Linked DNA regions of Homo sapiens. The protein of the gene in region 4 purifies or fractionates together with the protein of the main gene of each other region. This does not show direct contact. Each region holds a gene or a part of one and is shown on either strand. Other genes may lie near its edges.

Region 1 (5,607 bases), on a different chromosome or scaffold from region 4:
TTAAACCTGTTAAGGTTACAAGGAACGCCTGAGACCTGTGAAACTGCTGAGCCTGCCGAGCGTTGCCACGTACAAAGCAAAAGTGCTCCTTCACCGGCTGCTCTCCTGGCTGGCCGGCCGCCCCTTCCTGGAGTGCCACTGCTACAAGCTCGGGCACAGCCGCCCACCCCCTTCGTGGAGTGCCACTGCTACGAGCTCAGACACAGCCGCCCGCCCCCTTCCTGGAGTGCCACTGCTACGAGCTCGGGCACAGCCGCCCGCCCCCTTCCTGGAGTGCCACTGCTACGAGCTAGGGCACAGCTGTTCAGGCTTCTGGGAGAGCAGGATGGAGCTGGCTCTCTCTGCACACATATGTGTGGTCAGGGTTAGAAGACTCAGTCACCTTTTTACAGAAACGTAACTACAGTGGTCATGTTGTTTTACAGCTTTGTGGGGACACTTGGTAGCTCACGAACCTGGATGCGAGGTAGGATGGACTGCTGGCAATGGCAGTGCTGGTTTATTATTAATCTTCTTCTTAGTTTTTGAGACGGAGTCTCGCTCTGTCACCCAGGCTGGAGTGCAGTGGTGTGATCTCGGCTCACTGCAACCTCCACCTCCTGAGTTCAAGTGATTCTCCTGCCTCAGCCTCCTGAGCAACTGGGACTACAGGCTCCTGCCACCACACCTGGGGAATTTTTGTATTATTAGTAGAGACAGGGTTTCTCCATGTTGGCCAGGCTGGTCTTGAACTCCCGACCTCAGGTGATCTACCTGCCTTGGCCTCCCAAAGTGCTGGGATTACAGGCGTGAGCCAATGCGCCCGGCCAACGGTGCTGGCTTTTATCGCGTGCCTGTTCTGAGCCCTAGAACAGTGAATAATGACACACAGCAGCTTCTGCTATAGGTCTCTGACAACCCATATTTCAGACAAAACTGAGGTACAGACAAGCCAAGCCATCTGCCCAAGGCTAGTCAAACAGGGGAGACACAGAGGCCAACTCGACTGCCCAAGGCTAACCAGATGGGGGAGGCAGAGAGGCCAAGTCGCCTGCCTAAGGCTAGTCAGACGGGGTATTCAGGCCTTGGCCTCCCCCTCTGCCTGCAGTGCTGCGTTACATAGCCTCATCTGTGTCAGCTGCCGAATGACCCACAGCTGCACTAAGCACTGAGCGATATCCCTTTTTCTTTTTGAGACAGGATCTTGAAGGTCTGTGGCCCAGGCTGAAATGCTGTGGCATGATCATGGCTCACTGAAGCCTCAACTTCCTGGGCTCAAATGATCCTCCCACTTCAGCCTTCCAAGTAGCTGGGACCACCAGCACGCACCACTGTGGGCGGCAAGTCACCCAGGTGCCGAGGCAAGAGACCGAGGGCACGAGCTGTTCCAGTGTAATAAAATATATAAAATAAGAATAGTTATACTAGATCTAGATCACAGACATGATTATATATGAATATCATTAATTAATTTGTAGCAATTACTCTTTATTCCAATATTATAATAATCCTCGCTCTACAATCATAACCTAGGAAAAACCAGGTCATACAGAGACAGGAGCTGGGGGGACATGGTGAGAAGTGACCAGAAGACAAGAGTGTGAGCCTTTTGTTATGCCCAGACAGGGCCACCAGAGGGCTCCTTGGTCTAGTGGTAACGCCAGCGTCTGGTAGGACGCCCGTTGCCAAGCAGACCATGGTCTAGCAGTAGCGTCAGTGTCAAGGAAAAACACCCACTACTTAGCAGACCAGGAAAGGGAGTCTCCCTTTCCCCAGGGGAGTTTAGAGAAAACTCTGCTCCTCCACCTCTTGTGGAGGGCCTGACATCAGTCAGGCTTGCCCGCAGTTATCCAGAGGCCTAATCGTCTCCCTGTGATGCTGTGCTTCAGTGGTCACGCTCCTAGTCCACCTTCATGTTCCATCCTGTACACCTGGCTCTGCCTTTTAGATAGCAGTAGCAAATTAGTGAAAGTACTAAAAGTCTCTGATATGCTGAAATAACGGCGTAAGCTGTCTCTCTGTCTCCTCTCTCTCTGCCTTGGCTGCCAGGCAGGGAAGGGCCCCCTGTCCAGTGGACACATGACCCACATGACCTCACCTATCATTGGAGATGGCTCACACTCCTAACCCTGCCCCTTTGTCTTGTATCCAATAAATATCAGTGCAGCCTGGCATTTGGGGCCACTACCGGTCTCCACGGCTTGGTGGTAGTGGTCCCCCGGGCCCAGCTGTCTTTTATCTCTTTGCCTTGTGTCTTTATTTCTACGCTCTCTCATCTCCGCACATGGGGAGAAAACCCACCGACCCTGTGGGGCTGGACCCTACACACCACCACACCCACCTAATTTTGAAATTTTTTGTAGAGACACGGTTTTGCCATGTTGCCCAGGCTGGTCTCGAACTCTCAGGCTCAAGTTATTCTCCCACTTCACCCTCCCAAAGCGCTGGGATTACAGCAGCCATGAACCACTGTGCCGGCCATTTTCTTCCATTTTTAGAGAAGGGTCTCACTCTGTAGCCCAGGAAGGAGCGCAGTGGCTATTCGTGGATGTGATCATAGCAAACTACAGTCCTAACCTCCCAGGCCCAAGTGATCCTCGGACCTCACTGAGTAGCTGGAACCACAGATCCCACCTATGGGACCATATATTCCCACATCACCATATCTGGCTTTTTTTTACTCTAACCTACTTGAGTATCAGAGGGCCCGACCCCCTCATGCCTCTGGTTTTCCAGATGTTTCCTACTGCTTTCATTTTTATTCATTTATTTATTTTGAGATGGATTCTCACTCTTGTCGCCCAGGCTGGAGTGCAGTGGCACAATTTTGGCTCACTACAACCTCTACCTCCCAGGTTCAAGTGATTCTCCTGCCCCAGCCTCCCCAAGTAGCTGGCACTACAGGCACCCATCACCACGCCTAGCTAATTTTTGTATTTTTAGTAGAGATGGGCTTTCATCATGTTGGCCAGGCTGGTCTTGAACTCCTGACCTCAAGTGATCCACCTGCCTCGGCCTCCAAAGTGCCGGGATTACAGGCGTGAATCACTACACTTGGCCTCATTTTTATTCTTTAGATGAACCTTTGAATAATCTGCTCATATTCCCAAAAGATCTTTTGTGTTTTGACTTGGTGTTGACTGATTTTACAGAAGTTAACGTATTTACACTATTGAAATTTTCTAGTCTAAAACAAGACTTATTTCATCTTCCTCAAAGTATAGTTTCTTCATTTAGAAATATTAGGCCAGACGCAGTGGCTCACGCCTGTAATCCCAGCACCTTGGGAGGCCGATGCGGGCGGATCACGAGGTCAGGAAATTAAGACCATTCTGGTTAACATAGTGAAACCCCATCTCTACTTAAAAAAAAAAAAAATACAAAAAATTAGCCAGGCGTGGTGGCAGGCACCTGTAGTCCCAGCTATGCGGGAGGCTGAGACAGGAGAATGGCATGAACCCGGGAGGCGGAGCTTGCAGTGAGCAGAGATGCACCATTGCAGTCCAGCCTGGGTGGCGACAGAGCAAGACTCCATCTCAAAAAAAAAAAGAAATATTAATCTTGGGCCAGGTGCGGTGGCTCACGCCTGTAATCCCAGCACCTTGGGAGGCTGAAGCAGGCAGATTGCTTGGCCTCTGGAGTTCGAGACCAGCCTGGGCAACATGACAAAACCGCATCTCTACAAAAACTACAAAAAATAGCTGGGGGTGGTGGCGTGCACTGTGGCCCCAGCTACTCAGGGAGCTGAGGTGGGAGAATCGTTTGAGCCCAGAACGTCAAGAGTGCAATGAGCCAAGATGGTGCCACTGCACTCCAGCCTGGGTGAGACCATCTCAGAAACAAAACAGAAAGAATAAATGTGACTCTTCTCAAGGTTCTTGGTACATATTGTGTGTACTTCTATTGCTGCACAACAAATCACCACCAACTTCAGGGCTGAAACCAGCACATCCACTTATCATCTTACTGCATTCGTCGTCAGGGGTGCAGGTGCAGCGTGGCTGGGACGCAGGCTGAATTCCAGGGGCCGGCTGCACTGCATTCTCATGAGGAGCTGGAGGACCCTCTTCTAAGCCCATTCTGGTTGGAGGCAGAATTTATTCCCGGTTCAAGGAATGAAGTTCCCGTTTTCTCGCTGCCCTAAAAAGCCTCTGACACTTTTACTGTCTGGCTTCCCTGATCAGGTCGGGCCCTAAAGAGCCTCTGACACTTTTACTGTCTGGCTTCCCTGATCAGGTCGGGCCCTAAAGAGCCTCTGACACTTTTACTGTCTGGCTTCCCTGATCAGGTCGGGCCCTAAAGAGCCTCTGACACTTTTACTGTCTGGCTTCCCTGATCAGGTCGGGCCCATCCAGGATCATCTCGCATTTTGATGACGTCAAACTCAATGGATGAGTGAGCTAATCGCAGGAGAGACACACCTCCCTCTTCCTCATTCCACCCACACTCGAGGGGAGGGTTACACATGGCTGTTTCCCAGGGGCAGGGATCGTGTGGGCTGTCTTGAGTCCTGCCACCTTGTTACCAAACCGCCTTCCAGGAAGATGTGTGCCTCCACAGCAACGTGTCCGAGCCCCTGATCCAGAGTCAACTGATATTCTTTGGCCTCTCATAGATGTAAATATTTTTTTGAGCTTATCATTTGTTCTACAATTGTTTATAAGAGTTTGGGGAGAGGTTTAACATTTTAACGCAGTCAAATTCTTCAATATGTGTACTGTCTTTCCTTGCTAGGAAGCATAAATAGGGTCTTACTCTGTCGCCGGGGCTGGAGGGCAGTGGCACGATCTTGGCTCACTGCAGCCCCAACCTCATGGGGTCAAGGGATCCTCCTATCTCAGGCCCCTGATTAGTTGGGGCTACAGGCACACTCCACTACACCCAGCTAATTCTTGTCTTTTTTGTAAAAATCAGGTTTCACCATGTTGCCCAGGCTGGTCTTGAACTTCTGGGCTCAAGTGATCTGCCTGCCTAGGCTTCCCAAAGTTCTGAAATTACAGGCGTGAGCCACTGTGCTTGGCTCCCAAAGCGAACGTTTTATATAACTATAGTACCATTATCGACACGAGGAAATGGACTCCGGTACTATGAGTGTATGTACAGCTACGCCATTTAATCAATCACCACCAAAACCAACAATCCCATCTTCCTCCTGCTGCCCTTCAGACACACCCACTCCCTACCCCAACCCCAAAGCCCTGCCCTTCACAGACCCCCTCACTCCCTACCCCAACGCCAAGGCCCTAGCAATCAACAATCTGTCCTCCCTGTCTATAATTTTGTCATTCAGAGAATGTTACAGAAATGGAATCACGGCCGGGTATGGTGGCTCACGCCTGTAATCCTAGCATTTCAGGAGGCCGAGGCAAGCGGATCACCTGAGATCGGGAGTTTGAGGCAAGCGGATCACCTGAGGTCGGGAGTTTGAGACCAGCCTGACCAACATGGAGAAACCCCATCGCTACTAAAAATACAAAGATTAGCTGGGCATGGTGGCGCATGCCTGTAGTCCCAGCTACTCCGGAGGCCGAGGTAGAATTGCTTGAACCCGGGAGACCAAGGTTGCAGTGAGCCAAGATCGTGCCATTTGCACTCCAGCCTAAAAAAAAAAAAAAAAGAAATGGAATC
Region 2 (5,607 bases), about 30 Mb from region 4:
GTATTTAGCAACCATGAAACACCAATGAGATTTCCAAAATTTTAATAATGTTCATGTAAAACAACTAATTGTATTTGCTGTTAACTCATTTTATTTTTTAAAAGCAACTGTTAAATGAAGGAAACTTGTTCCTTTCATCTTCTGCCTCCAATTCTTCTCCTTACCCCTTCTCTAGAGCCCAGACTTTTGCTCTTCTTATGCCACTGACTGCTCCTGTCAAGGTCACTCAATGGCTACCACATTGCAAAGTGCAAAAGTTAATGTTCAGTATTCATATTACTTGACCTGTCAGGATCATGATACAATTGATCACTTCCTCCTCCTAAAAACACTTTTCTTTACTTGGCTTCCAGGACACCTCATTCTCCTTGTTTTCCTCTTACTTCACTGGCCCTTCCTTCTCAGTATCTTTAGCTAGTTCCTTCTCAACTCCCTGGCTTTTTTTTTGTTTGAGATGGGATTTCGGCTCCCTGCAACCTCTGCCTCCTGGGTTCAAGCGATTCTCCTGCCTCCGCCTCCTGAGTAGCTGGGATTACAGGCACTTGCTCACCACGCTGGCTAATTTTTTTTTTTTTTTTTGTATTTTTAGTAGAGATGGGGTTTCACCATATTGGCTAGGCTGGTCTGAAACTCCTGACCTCAGGTGAACCACCCGCCTCAGCCTCCCGAAGTGCTGGGATTACAGGCGTGAGCCACTGGGCCTGGCATCTCCCTGGCTTTTTAACACTGGCAGAGCTCAATTCCTGCACTAAGTACTTCTCTTCTTTGCAGTCTGCACTAATTCCCTTGGTGATCTCATCCAGTCATGACCTTAAATACCATTTATATGCTAAGGACTCCCAAATTTACAGCTGTAGCCTGAACAATCCTGACCAAGATGAACTTGTATATCCAACTGACTACCCAACATTTTTACTTAGATGTCTAATATGCCAAAAAATGTCCGAATCTGAACTTTAAATCTCCCCATATATCCCTCGCCCTATTAAAAAAAAAAAAAACAAAACCCTGTTCTCCAGGCAATCTTTCCAATTTACATAAATGACAAATCTGTCCTCCCAGCTACTCAGGCTTAAAAACATTACAGTTGGATTTGTCTTTTTCTCTTGCCACAAACAACTGGTCTGCTAAATCCTCTCAATTCTACTTTCAACATATATTTAGAATCTGACCACTTCTCACACTTGGACTGGACTACTTGGCTAGTATCATCATCATTTCTCCCTTGGATTACTGCAAAAGCCCAAAAGCTTTCTCTGCTTCTGCGCTTGCCTCCTGGTCTATTTTCAACAAAGGAGCTTGTGTGAGTCTGAAGTCAGATTATGTTACTCCACTCAAAACCCTCCAGTGGTTTCCCATCTTGCTCAAGAGGAAAAGCAAAAATTCTTACAATGGTCTACAAAGTCCTAAAGAATCTTGTCCCATTACATTGCTGACCTAATCTACTGCTACACGCCAAGCCCACTTATTCCAGTTAATCCATACTTGATGTTTCTTGAACATATCAAGCTTGCTCCCATATCAGTTTCTTAGAACTTGGGCCCTATGCCCAAATACCTCCTTAAAGCTATTGCTCAAATGTCATCTTCTAAGTTAGGCCTTTCCTAACCATTTTACTAAAATAACACCCCTCCCTATCCCCACACTGCCTATTCACATCTTCCCCGTCTTTTTTTTCTTTTCTTCTTCGCCATAACTATCGCTTTTGACCCACTTTGTATTTCATTCATGTAATTCTTTTTATTTTTTTGAGAGATGAGGACTTGCTTGTGTCCACCTCAGCTGGAGTGCAGTGGCATGATCTCGGCTCATTGCAACCTCTGCCTCCTGGGCTCAAGCAATTGATCCTTGATCTCAGCTCTCAAGTAGCTGAGACTACAGGCGCCACCATGCCCAGCTAATTTTTGCATTGTTTGTAGAGACAGGGTTTTGCCATGTTGCCCAGGCTGTTCTTGAACTTCTGGGCTCAAGCAATGAGCCCACCTCAGCCTCCCAAAGTATATTACAGGCATGACCCATTGCACCTAGCCTTGTTCATGTAATTCTTTATTCTTTCTCTTTTCCTTTCTCAAGTAGGATGGTAAGCTTCACAAAGGCAGGGATTTTTGTTTATTTTGTTCAGTGTTATATCTCCAGTGCCTAGAATGGTGCATAGCAGGTGTTCAACAAATATTTGCTGAGTTGAATAAAATTCAGACAGCATAAAACATAAAATGAAAAAAACATATTTAACAAAAGATATCACAAAGTGAAAAAAATAATAATAGAACAAATATGGAGAAGATATCTACAGCACATATAAAAGACAAAGGACACGTAAAGAAATCTTATGAATCAGTAAGAAAAGGACAGACAATTAAAAGAAGGTCAAAAGACAAGAATAGGCATTCAAGAAGAAAAACTATAGGATCAATAAGTGTAAGAAAAGATGCTCACTGGCCATGAGTGGCAGCTCATGCCTGTAATCCCAGCACTTTGGGAAGCTGAGACAGGAGGATTGCTTGAGCCCAAGAGCTTCAGACCAGCCTGGGCAACATAGCAAGACTCTGTCTCTATTTAAAAAAGTTTTGGATTTTGGAGCATTTCAGATTTTGTATTAGGGATGGTCTACCTGTACTACAAGATATTAAAAAAGAAAGGTACTGTGAATGAGGCTAACTTAGGTCTACTTCTGACTCTACTAGTTTTCTTACTTAACTTTAGGCTCTGTGGCTTTAGTTTCTTCATTTGTTTAGAAAGAATACACACGCTTCCTGATTTTAAGACTTATTACAGGCCAGGCGCAGTGGCTCATGCCTGTAATCCCAGCACTTTGGGAGGCCAAGTTGGGCAGATCACCCTGAGGTCAGGAGTTTGAGACCAGCCTGGCCAACATGGTGAAACCCTGTCTCTACTAAAAATAAAAAAAAAATTAGCTGGGCATGGTGGCAGGCACCTGTAATCCCAGCTACTCGGGGGGCCTTGGCAGGAGAATTGTTTGAATCTGGGAGGCAGAGGTTGCAGTGAGCTGAGATGGCACCACTGCACTCCAACCTGGGCGACAGAGCGAGACTCCATCTCAAAAAATAAATAAATAAATAAATAAAACTTATTACAAAGCTATAGTAATTAAATGTGTAGTACTGGCATAACGACAGACATATACAAAAATGAGATGAAAGTGAGAGTCAAGAATAAACCATTGAATTTATGGTCAGTTGATTTTCAGAAAGGACACCAAGACAATTCAATGGAAAAAGAACACTCTTTTCAACAAATGTTGCTCAGACAATGGATATCCACAAGCAAAATAATAAAGTTGTACCCCAATCCCTTGCACTATAAACAAAATGAACTCAAAATGGGTCATAGGGCTGGGCATGGTGGGTCACACATGTAATGCCAGCACTCTGGGAGGCTGAGGCAGGAGGATTACTTGAGCTTAGGAGTTTGAGACAAGCCCGCACAACAAAGTGAGACCCTGTCTCCACACACACAAAAAATCAAAAAATTAGCTGGGCATAGTTGTGGGCCCAGCTACTTGCAAGGTAAGGCAGGAAGACAGCACGAGCCCAGGAGGTTGAGGCTGCAGTAAGCCATGTTTGTGCCTCTGCACTCCAGCCTGAGCAACAGAGTGAGGCCCTCTCTCAACAACAACAACAACAAAAAAAGTATCAAAGACCTAAAGAAAGAGCTCAGATGGGATGATTTCTGGGGTATGTTTTCTAGCAATAAAATTTATGGTTATATGAAAAGAAAAAATGCATTAATTTAACTATTAATTCATTCTATAAACACGTTGCTTATCTACAATGTGGCAGTCGTTATGCTATGTGCTGGCAAGATGTGTATTATAAAATTCTTGTCTTTAAGGACCTCCCAATATAATGGGGAGACAGGAAAAGTTTAAAATGATGTAGTAATAGCAGAGAGGTAAATATAGTGATTTGACTCCTATGGCTTCAACTACTATCTACATGTAACAACTCTCCCCAAATTCCAGACTCATATATCCAACTGCTACTGAAATCTCCACTTTACTAGTGAGTTATATTTATCCTTTCCTCCTCTCTTTTTTTTTTTTGAGATGGAGCCTCGCTCCCATCACACCAGGCTGGAGTGCAGTGGCACGATCTCAGATCACTGCAATCTCCACCTCCCGGGTTCAAGTGATTCTCCTTCCTCAGCGTCCCGAGTAGCTGGGATTACAGGCATGCGCCACCAGGCCCGGCTAAAATTTTTGGATTTTCAGTAGCAATGGGGTTCTGCCATGTTGGTCAGGCTGGTCTTGAACTTCTGACCTCAGGCAATCCACCCGCCTCAGCCTCCCAAAGTGCTAGGATTATAGGCGTGAGGCGCCACGCCCGGCCTTCTTCACCCTTAAGATCTGAATATCAGTAAGATTACATACATGACTGTGAAATAAGTCCATCTGAAACATAAAGATAAACCAGGTACGTTTTAGAATTTTGAGATTTTGGAATGTTAACTGGGTACCTTATCTCAGTTTACAGGGGAACAACACTCTAATCAAATGCAGTAACATTTTAGAGCTAAACATCTACTAATTGGGATAAAGATCATAATAGCTTTGTGTCAGTTTAGGTCAGGTTTTGCCCATTCTCAACAGCCTCCAATCAGTTAAAAAAAATCATTTGTTTTCTAACAGGCTTTTGGATTTTAGAATCCAAAGAGATGAGGAATTATCACTCAAGCTCTCTAGTCTTCCATTAAGATGTCTCAAATAAAATGTAATCAGGGCCAGCTGCGGTGGCTCATGCCTGTAATCCCAGCACTTTGAGAGGGCAAGGCAGGTGGATTGCTTGAGGCTGGGCTTCCAGACCAGCCTAGCCAACATGGCGAAACCCTGTCTCTACTTAAAATATAAAAAAATTAGCTGGGTGTGGTGGCACATGCCTGTAATTCCAGTTACTCAGGAGGCTAAGGCACGAGAATCACTTGAGCCTGGGAGGTGGAGGTTGCAGTGAGCAGAGACTGTGCCACTGCACTACAGACTGGGTGACAGAGTGAGACACTGTCTCAAAAAAAAGCAATCACCCTGTAAAGACTCTCATCTTCACTCATCTGAGTTACTGACAAGGCTTCCTACTTCCAATTTATTCTCTATTCTGTCAGAGTGATTCTTCTAAAATGCAAATCTGATTGCGCCTACATTTTTCAATAACATTCTATTGCTTAAAAGGATGTAGCTCAAACTTTTTGCAAGATATACAAAACTACATATTATATATATATATATATATATATATATACACACACACACACATATGAATATGAGACTATTGCAGGAGCTGCTAACCTGTATTGTAGAAATAGGCAAATGACATGTTTAACCAAAGGATTTAGTCTTCTCTCTTTAATTATACAATTTCATTTTGTATCTTGTTCAAATTATCACTATTAAAGATTTTGGGAATTATTTTTTAGGCAGAGCAGAGCAGGATGATGTGGAAGATAAAGAAATGTGATATCTGGATGGATGGATGCTAGTCTTTGAATATCACTGGCTGGCTTGTAAGTATAATAGAGTAAGTTCATCTTGCCATCTGGCTAATGTAAAATGGAAAGCAGAGGTACTTGCCAATAAGAACTGCAGAACTGAATGAA
Region 3 (5,607 bases), on a different chromosome or scaffold from region 4:
GCAATGGCACGATCTTGGCTCGGCTCACCACAACCTTCGCCTCCTGGGTTCAAGGGATTCTCCTGTCTCAGCCTCCCGAGTAGCTGGGATTACAGGTGTGCGTCACTACGCCTAGCTAATTTTTTGTATTTTTTTTCTGAGATCGAGTTTTGCTCTTGTTGCCCAGGCTGGGGTACAGTGTCACGATCTTGGCTCACTGCAACCTCCACCTCCTAGGTTCAAGCGATTCTCCTGCCTCAGCCTCCTGAGTAGCTGGGATTACAGTCGTGCGCCACTAAATCCAGCTAATTTTTTGTATTTTTAGTAGAGACGGTTTCATCATGTTGGCCAGGCTGGTCTTGAATTCCTGACCTCAGGTGATCCACCCACCTCAGCCTCCCAAAGTGTAGGGATTACATGCGTGAGCTACCGCGCCCGGCCAATTTTTTGTACTTTTAATAGAGACAGGGTTTCCCCATGTTGGCCAGGCTGGTCTCGAACTCCTGACCTCAAGTCGTCCACATGCTTTGGCCTCTCGAAGTGCTGGGATTACAGGTGTGACCCACCACGCCCGGCCTATTATTATTATTTTTGAGACAGGGTCTCGCTCTGTCACCCAGGCTGGAGTGCAGTGGCACAATCACGGCCTACTGCAGCCTTGACCTCCTAGGCTCAAGTCCCCTGAGTAGCTGGGACTACAAGAACAAGCCACCATGCCTGGCTAATTTTATTTTTATTTATTTATTTTTTGTAGAGGCAGGGTTTCGCCCTGTTGCCCAGGCTGGTCTCAAACCCCTGGGCTCAAAAGCAATCTGTCCCACTTGGCCTCCCAAAGTGCTGGGATAATAAGTCAGCCACTGCACTTGGCCTGTATCACTTAAACACATTTTTTTGAAGATGAAAAACAGAGTCTCAATGTGAAATTTCATTTTTCATTTTACTTTTGAATGTTATATAGAAAACAGTACAATATATGGCTTATTTTTGAGGTACTACAGTTTTAATATTTTTTTCCCCTCTGATGACATGCTAGTGTTTAGCCTGATGCTTTTAAGTTTCCCCCCCTTTTTTTTTTCTGAGACGGGGTCTCCCTTAATCACCCAGGCTGGGGTGCAGTGGTGTGATCTTGGCTTACTGCAGCCTCAACCTCCCAGGCTCCGGTAATCATCCCACCTCAGTCCCCCAGGTAAGCTGGGACTACAAGGGCGTATCACATGCCTGGCTAATTTTTTGTATTTTTAGTAGAGACAGGGTTTTGCCATGTTGCCCAGGCTGGTCTTGAACTCCTGGGCTTAAGCCATCTGCCCACTTCGGTCTCCCAAAGTGCTGGGAGTACAGATGTGAGCCACCGCGCCTGGCTGAGTTCCAAAATAATTTCTAGTACTGAGGCTAATCACAGAGATCTCTCAAAATTAAAAGATTACTGCTTCCTCTTTAAGATCTAAACATTATTGTCTCTCTTTTTGGAGCCCTTCTTCCTCCACTGCCAGCTTCATCTCTCCCTAATCCCACCCTTCACCTCATCTAGGGCCCCACACTAAGGCAAATAAACAAACATAAACATAAGATGACAGCAAGTATGAGAAATTTAAAAATAAAAATAATTTTCTTTACTAATTTCAGAAAATCCTTTTTTTTTTTTGAGACAGTGTCTCACTCTGTTGCCCAGGCTGGAGTGCAGTGGCGTGATCTCGGCTCACTGCAACCTCTGCCTCCTAGGCTCCTGTGACTCCCGTGCCTCAGCTGGGACTACAGGCATGCGCTACCATACTTGGCTAATATTTGTATTTTTAGTAGATACAGGGTTTCACCATGTTGGCCAGGTTGACTTCAGAAAATACTGATAGCATTATTATTATTTATTAGCAAGAGTAATATTACAACAGTATAAATGACCTGGCACACCTCTAAGTTACTTTAGTAACTCTGAAGCTCTCTGTAAAAAAATAAGTGTGTTATGTGCATAGTGCAATGTCATATTTCTTTAGTAGTATCTTTTGAGGTTGTATTCCATCATGGATCAAGAACGTACTTGAATAAAAAGGTGAGGTACCTAGTGATAATTTTAAATATGTTATCTAATGTCTTAAAACATTATTTCCAAGTAATGAGAATTAAAAAAAAGGAAGTCACAGAAGGTGGTCACAGCATAAGTAAGCATTATGGTTAAAATGTAACTGTAGGCAGTCCTTGCTTTGTAAGTAGCAGAGTAAGAGACATTCAAGCGATGCTTGTTAGACTTTTGTCAGCACTGATAACTGGCTTGCTATTAATGCCAGCCCAGTTCCAGCTAGTGTTTGTGAGCGTGTTCTAAAGGATGTCTGGCAGTAAGAGCTGGGTAGAGTGAAAGTGAAACTGTGCCATGTTTCTCACTGGGAGATACTGAAATAAGTTACTAACTGCTGGATAAATGTCACTCAAAAGCAGTCTCTTGGCTTTTTCTTAAACAGTGGGCAACCTTCCCTTTGAATTCTCCATTTCTGTCATTCCCTCATTCTTCTCATGCATTGACATTAGCAGGCGAGTCTCTATTAGGGTCGGCCAAAATAAAAATGACACTAATTATGGTTTCCAAGGTGTAGCACAGGAGCAAGCATTCTTTTGGCTTTTATCCTTCCCAGGCTCATGAAGAACAGAAATGCACATATTACCACAGAGAAGTGCTCATAAAGAAAGGTGTGTACTTTAGCACGGAAATTTAAAAGTGTCTATTGAGACTGAATTGAGAGCATCATTAGAGTTTAGTCACAGTATGGCTAAATAGGTTTTTATGCTTGTCAAATAATTTACCAACTTTTATATTATTTCTTCTTTTTTAAAAAATGTTTAAAACAGAGAGGGGGACTTGTTATGTTGCCCAAGGTGGTCTCAAACTTTTGGTCTCAAGCAATCCTGCCTTGGCTTCCCAAAGTGCTGGGAATACAGGTGTGGGCCACCACACCTGGCCTATATTATGTCTATGAGAAAGAATATTCTAATACAAATGATTTTTTATTACAATAACCCCTGTTTATTATATTCATGAGTTTTTGCTTATTATCATTTCCAGACAAGTTCTTCTTTTTTTTTGAGTCGGAGTCTCATTCTGTTGCCAGGCTGGAGTGCAGTGATGCAATCTCAGCTCACTGCAACCTCTGCCTTCCAGGTTCAGGTGATTCTCCTGCCTCAGCCTCCCGAGTAGCTGGGACTACAGGCATGCGCCACCATGCCCAGCTAACTTTTGTGTTTTTAGTAGAGACGGGGTTTTACCATGTTGGCCAGGCTGGTCTCAACCTCTTGACCTCATGATCCGCCCGCCTTGGCCTCAAAAAGTGCTGGGATTACAGGCGTGAGCCACCACGCCCAGCCTCCAGACAAGTTTTTAAAGAAGCAAAATAAAACAAAAACACACACGTACACGTGAGGTAGGAAGCCATGTCCAAGGTGGCATACCCTTATACAGGAATAAAGTGGGCTATATTTCCAAATACTGTGATTTTAGATACATTATTATTTGGCTCTCAAAGGAACCAGTAGTATATGAAATGCAGTGTATGTGTGAGATACTGGAAAATACAGACATAGAAGGTAAACTTGAACATGTATGGTAAATAAAGTGTTCTACTGTTAAACAAATCTGCGTAACTTCCCCTAATATCTAAACAGTGGGGAATCTGAATGCGTAATATCCGTAAAGAGTACAACCTCCAATGAGATACCAAAATGTTTTAAGTATTTTTATTTTTCAAGATATGTTAAATAATTGGATATGTTTTAAAGGGTGCCTTCAAAAATTACGTTTCTTTTTAAGAGACGGGGTCTCACTATGTTGCCCAAGCTGGAGTGTAGTGGCTATTCACAGGTGTGATCATTGTGCACTATAGCCTTAAACTCCTGGGCTCAAGCCATCCTCCTGCCTCAGCCTCCCAAGTAGGTGGGACAACAGGTATGTATCACTGCACCTGGCAAAAATTACCTTTTAATAAAGAAAAAATTATAATGTTCTATTTATCATTTTTCTCATACGCATCACCTTAAATAGAAAATCTCAACGGCTAGCAAGTCTAACCTTTTCTATTTGCTAACATTTGAACGACCACTACTGCATGAAAATGACCCTATATGGACTGTAAGTGAAGTATTACCTGGTAACTGAAGTAAGTATTTATAGGGTTCTAGAAGAATTCTTTGGACTGTTTCTTGAGTCTTCTCCATTGGATTTAAACTTCAAAGCTAATCTGTCAAAAAGGAGAAACATAAAGATCACATGAAACTAATCATCTTTCAGTGTCAAACTGCAAAGGAATTTGTATTGCAGGGTGTTTGTGAAAAGACACCTAGTCTGGTTTAAAAAGAAGATTCTGTTGCTGGGCACGGTAGTTCACGCCTGTAATCCCAGCACTTTGGGAGGCTGAGGCGGGCGGATAGCTTAAGCCCAGGAGTTCGAGACCAGCCTGGGCAACATGGCAAAACCTTGTCTCTACTAAAAATATGAAAAATTAGCTGAGGTGGGTAGATCATGAGGTCAGGAGTTCGAGACCAGCCTTCACACCATCTCTACTAAAACTACAAAGATTAGCCGAGCATGGTGGTGTGTGCCTGTAGTTCTGGCTACTTGGGAGGCTGAGGCAGGAGAACTGCTTGAACCCGGGAGGCAGAGGTTGCAGTGAGCTGAGATCACACCACTGCACTCCAGCCTGGGCGAAAGAGTGACTCCAGTCTCAAAAAAACAAAGCAAGATTCTACAGCTATGAAGCCTTGAAAACATGTTAAGTGAAAGAAGCCAATCTCAAGAGACTACATATTGTATGATTCCATTTATACGAAATGTTCAGAATAAGCCAATCTACAGAGAAAGAAAGTAGATTAGTGGTTAGGAACAGGGACTAATTGCTAATGAGTACAGGGTTTCTTTTCGCAGGGATCAAAATGTTATAAAATTAAATTGTGATGGTTGCACAGCCCTGTGAATACACTAAAAACTGCTGAAATGTACACTTTAAATGGGTGGTATGTAAATTATATCTCAATTAGAAAATTCTTCATTCAAGTGATTATATTGGTCAAAGTGTTGTCTTGGTTTTTAAGTTGTTTTCTTAGTCACATAACTTATATTAAGCTTTTCCTATTTTAATCAACCACAAAAGGCTTAATTTGTTGACGGCAAATGTCAAAACACATCCAAAGAATTGGAAAGATACCTCTGTATTTAACTGATTACACTAATTAGTAAACATATCCTTTTTTAAATGAGCACTAAGATGAGTATGTTTTATGTATTTAAAATTTAAAGGGATTCTCCTCGTCCCCCTAGTAGTTTCTCTACAATCAATCCATTTCAGAGATTTCTGATTTAAAATACGCATTAACTCAAATGCATATATTTATTAAACATATTCCCCTTTATACTGAAATCTGTCTTATTTCAGTATTTCCTAGAATAACACTCATGGTCTTCCTAGGGTCTCCCTGTACTGTTGAATCTCTACTTTATTTCTTTGTATCTGTTTCTATTATTACTTGTCCTCATATTAGGAATCTAACTGCTCTAGCATCTTTGGCACATTTTGGGAAGTTTATTACTTTTATCCTCTTTCTTTTGCTTCTTGGGACTATGATTTAGTCTTTAGAATCCTGAGCCCACTTCTA
Region 4 (5,921 bases):
TGGGCAGATGGGAAAGAGTTGATCACCCTACTGGAAATGTTCCAGAGAGGCAGTATTTAGAAGGGAGTACTGAAGGGGCAATGCAGTTGCAAAGAATTATTTTTTTGCATATGCATAATGGCTGACAGATTCTTAGCTCCACACCAGTGGTCACTGTCTGTTTCCATGTTGCCATTTTTCTTCCAGTTGCCCACATTTGCTAGGTTGTCATTGACTCATGCAATCCTTGATCCCTGGGGCAATCGCAGATTCCTCTTCTGTGACCACCTCCCAGCCCCACCTCAAGTCTGGCCCTGAGTTCTCTCTGCTGTTACCTTTTGCAGTGGCCAGATATATACTCCCTTTTTCAGGTCTCTACCAGTCTCTGATCCAACCTGCGCCCACAGCCAGATTGGCCTACCCTAAACAATGGTCTCTTGTCTCTCTTCTCTAAAACCTCCAGGGACCATGCTCTAAAGTACAATGCCTAAGTCCCTACCTGTGGCCCTTTCTCCTCCCCTTTCTCTGTAAATCCTTTGCTTCTTTCCTTTAGGCTCAGTCACCTTTATAGAGACCAAGAGCATGGGCTCCTGAGTCGGACAAGCAAACAGCTCAGTCCCTGTGCCACCACTTACAAACTGTGACCTGGCCAAGTTTCCTCAGGGTTCTGTAATTCAGTCTCATCCTTAAAATGGAAAGAAAAGTCTCTGTCCTGTTGGGTTATTTTAAGGATTAATACCTGCAAAGCACTTGGAACTGCTTAATAAGTGGTACTGTCTGAAAATGCCAGATTCCCTTCTGCCTTCCAGCCTTGTTCACTTTCCAAGGAATATTCTCTCTTGGGCCCTCCACCTGCAACTAAGGCCCTAGCTGACCCCCGTTGAACCCATGGAACTTCCTTGAAAGTAGGGTTGTCACACTTAGGCAGAGGCAGGAGAAAGTCTGAAGAGAGCCAGAGGACTGACAGGAGAGAAGGGAAGCAGGAAAGACAACTGAGCTTGATCTGAAGATTGGCTGGGACCACTGGGGAGGGGAAGGCCTGCAACTACTGAGCGTTCCCCCTCCTCTCCCCTCACACTGCAGGAGGGTGATTATCACCAGTGGAATAAATGAATGTCAGAAATGTCCACTGGCTGAGTTAGGCTGGAATCCCTACCAGGCAAGGCCACTACTCCAAGCTTCGCCCCAGCAGGCCAAGCCTTTCCACCCTCTGGCTGCTGCCACCATCCTAGTGGTAAAATTTCTGGCCCAGGGGCCTGGCAGAGGTCTTCCAGGTAGGGGTGTGGCCTCTCTGGGCACCCGTCTATTTGCCTGTGTCCCAGCGGAGGGTTCTTTTGGCAGGATGGGGAAAGGGTCAGGAACCCATTAACAGGTGGGGAAACAATGTCATCACTCTGGGGCCAACCTAGGGATTAGAATCAAGGTCTCCCAGGCAGACAGTAGGTGGGCCAAGGCCCCACTGTCTTTCACTCAGGCCCGGTGACTTCCCCTTGGTAGACTGATAAGCATCAGCTCTGAAGGCTGGCTGGATGCTGGGTCCAAAACCTGACCTCAGGGTTCTGACTTTGTAAAAATGGTGTAATTATTACCTACCTTAAAGGGTTGCTATAAGGGCTAAAGGAAACATTGCATTGAAAGCCCTGGCACAGTGCCAAGTGCGGACTCCCCATAGCACTTTACAGATTTTACTGTTTCTTGCTTCTGGCGGGCGTCTGGATAGAGGCATGGTGCGGCAGAGTCTCGACTTTATTCTCAAATATTGGGAAAGTAGCCTGGACAACATAGCGGGACCTCCTCTCTAAAAAAAAAAGTTTTTTAAATTAGCCTGGGGTGGTGCTGCACGCCTGTAATGCCAGCTAGTCGGGAGGTTGAGGCAGGAGGATCGCTTGAGCCCAGGAGGTCGCGACTGCAGTGAGCGGTGATCGCTCCACGGCACTCCAGCCTGGGCGACAGAGCGAGGCCCTGTCTCAGACAACAAAACAAACTTACAAAAAAACCGGGAAAGGTGAGCGTCTGGACTGTGGGCCGGAAGAGGCCCAAGTGGACCTCCTTCCTCCACCCTGGAACTCTGGCCAGAGGCAGAGCGCGAGGTGAGGAGTCCAGGGCCCCAGAGCCCAGGATTGGCGGCGGCTTTGTCTTCAATCGTCCACCTGTATCTCCTCGTCTGACAGGTGGGGCCGGGAGTCAGGGCCGGCAGGGCCGAGGCAGAGGCCGGGATCTGGAGCGCCTTCGGGCAGTGCTAAGCTGCACAGGACTTCCGGGGACAACGCGCGTAGCGAGGCGACGTCGGCGCGCATCTCCTCCACATCGCGCTTGAGCTTGGCTCGCCGGTTCTGGAACCAAGTGACCACCTGCGCGTTGGCCAGGCCGAGTCGCGTAGCTAGCCCGTCTCGCTCGGACGGCGCCAGGTACTTCTGGAAGACGAAGCGCCGCTCCAGCTCCAGCACCTGTTGCGCGGTGAACGCAGTGCGTGACTTGCGCCGTTTGCGGCCGAAGGGACCAGGGCCCAGCGCGTCCGGACCTGCCCGCCCTGTAGGGATAGGGAGGGGGTCAGTTTCCAGCCTCCGGGAATCAGGCTGGGCCTGGAAAGAAAAGTTGGGGGTGGGGTCGGGCCGGTGGCGGTGGGGGAAGTAGAGGGAGAGCCAGGAAGGCGGACGGAGACCAGAACTGTGATCCCTTATCGGGAGTCAGGCCCAGGTGGGGATATGGGGCGCAAAGCGGGCTGGCCACAGGGGTGCGAAAGGCAGCAGGCTGAGGGCATATTGTAGGGGCAAGGAAGTGAAGGAAGGGAGGGATGATTCAGAGGTGCAGGGTCAAACCTTCTGGGGTGGAGCCTTTGAGGCTTTTAGGAGCCTCAGGCTGAGCAGGCTATAAGTTGAGGGTGACATCAGAGGCGAGTAAGAGTCAGGGCAGCCGACCCAGCGTGGTGGTGGTAACAGGACTTAGATCATGCCCTTCCATGGATCGGGTCGGGCATTCGGTTTACAGTTCCTTAGTGACACCAGAGCCCGCTCCTCCGGCCCCAAAGGGAGATAATGAGGTACAGAGAGCGAGAAAAGGCAGAGTGCGGAATCCCGCGCCCAGTGCTGCGCCAAGGGCTTTCTGCTCCTTGACTCCCCTCGAGAAGAGAGTGGCTTGGAGCGGAGCTTGGTCACCCGGAAAGACTCGACTCTCCAGCGCTTTCTGTGCCGCCTTTGCAGGCTCACTCGTTTACCGCCTGCGGCTGAAGCCTTTTGTCTCTTTCTCTCCTGCCTTTCTCTATCGCGATTGCCCCGCCTACAAGGAACAGAGCAACAGGTCGCTCAGTTGGCGACGGTCTGCCCTTTTCCCTTGGCACTGGCGGCCTTCCGGAGCCGCCGCGGAACCTAGGGACTAACGGAGGAGAGGTGAGAAGTCGCAGGTGCGAGTCCTGGCACGTGGGCTGAGGACAGGGGAGGATTAGGGTGGGTGGCCTGGGCTGGGACAAAGGTTTGAGACGGGGAACCAGGAGGAGAGAGGTGAGGAAAAGGCTAAGTCAGAGTCCGCGACCTTGCCGGCTCTATACCTTCAGAGGGCTGCAGAGCGCGCGCGTCAAGTCCGCGGAAAGTTTTACTAGTCAGCTCCTCCAGCGCGCACAGCGGCGACGTTGGACCCGGACCCGACTCTGGAAGCTGCGGCGCAGAGGGTGCTCGGGGGACCATGCGCGGGGCTAGGATGTCTGCGATGCTTAAGAGTGTCCGGGGTGTTCGGGGCTCGCGTCCCGAGTTCATGGTCGGCCGGGCTGGGGCGGTCCGGCTGTCCGTTGCGCTAGGCTCCGCAAACGCCTGGGCCCCAGTGCTCGGCTCCCAATCCGGGCCCCCAGCCTCGGACCCGCCCCCGGCTCTGGGCCCGAGTCCCGTGTGCCCCTCCTCCTGCGCCCCCACCTCTCCACCCCGGGCCGCGGTGGATCTGGAGCTCCTAGATGTCCGGGGAGGGTATTTCTACAGGCTGGGGCAGGCGCGGAGAGCAGAAGCCGACCAAACTACCCACCAGAGCAGGGCCACGGGGCTGCTCCGCGCTGCGGGGCGCTGCACCGTGCACAGTCAGGCCGGGCCATACCTCCAGACGCTGTATGCCGCCGACTCCCCGCCTAGCCGCCGCTCCGGCTCATAAACTAGTAGACGATAAAATTGCCTTCTCTGGCCCCAGCGGCTGGGGATTTGCAAAGTTCTGAGGAAGGCTATCAGGGCTGACTGTGCTGGGATCTCTGATCCCAGCTAGGACCTCAGTCTCCTAACCTGGCTCCCTCTTCCCCACCCCACCCCTGAGAAACGTTGTTTCTGGTCCTGACGGCTGGAAGTGATTAGTGCTGCATGGGTCGGGGGCGCAACACTTGGGAGGACCTGGCCTGGCGGAGCGACTGCAACTGGGAATAGTGGGGATGCCACGAAGAAGCAAGCACAGGTGAATGGACCCGAGGCTGCCCCACCTGACGAAATCAGAACACACAGAGAAGCTGCCGGGAGACCCGGGCCGCAGGAGAGAAGACCCAGGGAACTCCCAGCTGGTGCAACTGCCCAGGAGGGGTCTTTGTCAGTGAGGACTGGCAAAATCAGTCGATTTTGTCTGTCTTTATCTTCTTTTTATTAAGCTCCCATAGTTCAGGTATGTATGGTTTCCCCAGCCTGCAGAGGCTCAGAAACTGCCAAGGGGAGCAAGGTGCCCTGACCAGAGAGGGGTCACTCCCCATAGAAGAGAGACTTGAAGGGCAGACTTCACGGACCCAGCTGGATCTTGGGACATTCCTGACAACCCAGGTACTAACTGTGAGGCCTGGTATACTCATTCCTATTTAATCTGGGCCCTTTTTATCTGCCACACTTATTCTGGTTCTGGGCTCATACCTGGGTAAGCACCCACAGCCCTCCTTTGTAGGAAGAAGGCAGCTCAGGGACAGTGGGGCCTCAGCAGTTGAGGCCCAGCAGGGTATGGGTTTTGTTCCTACATTCCACCCCAAACAGCTGGAGGATTCACACCTTAGAGCAGGGAAGCCCTGCCACTCCTGAGGAGCTTGCTGCTTTGCTGCCCAGGGAAGTCAGAAACTGATGTGCTTCTAGCTTTTTAAAACAGTGTCAGGAAAAACCAGGCCAGTCCCTCCTGGACTGTCCATTATGTCACTTTCCTTGTAGACCCCTGCATCTCCCACCATCTGTGCAGTGTCCACCTGTCTATTCCCTGGGGCAACTGCTGCATGCAATTGGGGTTCCCTAAACAGGGCTTAGGAGATCCAAGGCACCTGGGCCAAAGACTCCTTGACAAAGATGGGAAGGCACCTTGATAGGGTCTTCTTGGTAAAGGGCTCACTCCAACAACCCCCCTCCCCCACCCGCAACATTCACATAATGCCCTCCTGGAAAGCTGAGCAACACACTTAAAGGCTGATGGGCCACTGCTGGATCAAAGAGCAGAGCCAGGCCATGGTGGAAAGCTGAGCTGCCTCAGGACGTTGTTAAATGGTTATTAATGGTGAGGGGCAGGGGAGGGCCTGGAGAGATCTTCGGGCTACAGGCCTCAGCCCTGGAAACCATCCTAGTGGTTTCACTTAATGTGCAATAAAGCAGCTCTCTGGAGGCAGCAGGAACTGCCCCACTGCATCCCAGGCATATCACCAAGCAGATGCTGCAACCTTCACTCATGCATCCTCTATGTGGCTTTTGTGTCTGTCTCTACCTCTGCTCTCAATTACTTACGTGTGTCTGTGAGGAGTGTGGAGCTCTGCTGATGGGCCTGTGCCTCACAGCCCCTTCCATCTCTCCCGCCTAGTTCTCCCCTCTGCAGCTGGGCTCAGGTACTGGGATTGGACAGCTCCTAAACATGAGTTTGGGGGAGGAGATGGAAGTGGAGAGTAGCAAAGGGAGGAGGCCCAGGACAGCAGAGGCCCCTCTAAGGTCGTCAAAGCGGCCAGGGACTAGTCCAGGGGATCG

Evidence for each region.
Region 1: the proteins of LBX2 (region 4) and SPATA33 purify together in Homo sapiens (affinity purification with mass spectrometry; one large-scale study listed by BioGRID and IntAct). This does not show direct contact.
Region 2: the proteins of LBX2 (region 4) and PREPL purify together in Homo sapiens (affinity purification with mass spectrometry; one large-scale study listed by BioGRID and IntAct). This does not show direct contact.
Region 3: the proteins of LBX2 (region 4) and GGPS1 purify together in Homo sapiens (affinity purification with mass spectrometry; one large-scale study listed by BioGRID and IntAct). This does not show direct contact.

The regions. Positions count from the first base shown.
Region 1 is NC_000016.10:89,663,231-89,668,837, reverse strand, and holds part of SPATA33 (spermatogenesis-associated protein 33), read right to left. Parts: intron 1-5,607. UniProt on the Homo sapiens protein: Plays an important role in sperm motility and male fertility. Required for sperm midpiece flexibility and for the localization of sperm calcineurin to the mitochondria. Promotes mitophagy as well as acts as an autophagy mediator in male germline cells.
Region 2 is NC_000002.12:44,350,528-44,356,134, forward strand, and holds part of PREPL (prolyl endopeptidase-like), read right to left. Parts: intron 1-5,607. UniProt on the Homo sapiens protein: Serine peptidase whose precise substrate specificity remains unclear. Does not cleave peptides after a arginine or lysine residue. Regulates trans-Golgi network morphology and sorting by regulating the membrane binding of the AP-1 complex.
Region 3 is NC_000001.11:235,333,831-235,339,437, reverse strand, and holds part of GGPS1 (geranylgeranyl pyrophosphate synthase), read right to left. Parts: intron 4,197-5,607; 5' UTR 4,174-4,196; coding exon 4,104-4,173; intron 1-4,103. UniProt on the Homo sapiens protein: Catalyzes the trans-addition of the three molecules of IPP onto DMAPP to form geranylgeranyl pyrophosphate, an important precursor of carotenoids and geranylated proteins.
Region 4 is NC_000002.12:74,495,810-74,501,730, forward strand, and holds LBX2 (transcription factor LBX2), read right to left. Parts: upstream 3,795-5,921; 5' UTR 3,729-3,794; coding exon 3,524-3,728; intron 2,510-3,523; coding exon 2,118-2,509; 3' UTR 1,708-2,117; downstream 1-1,707. UniProt on the Homo sapiens protein: Transcription factor.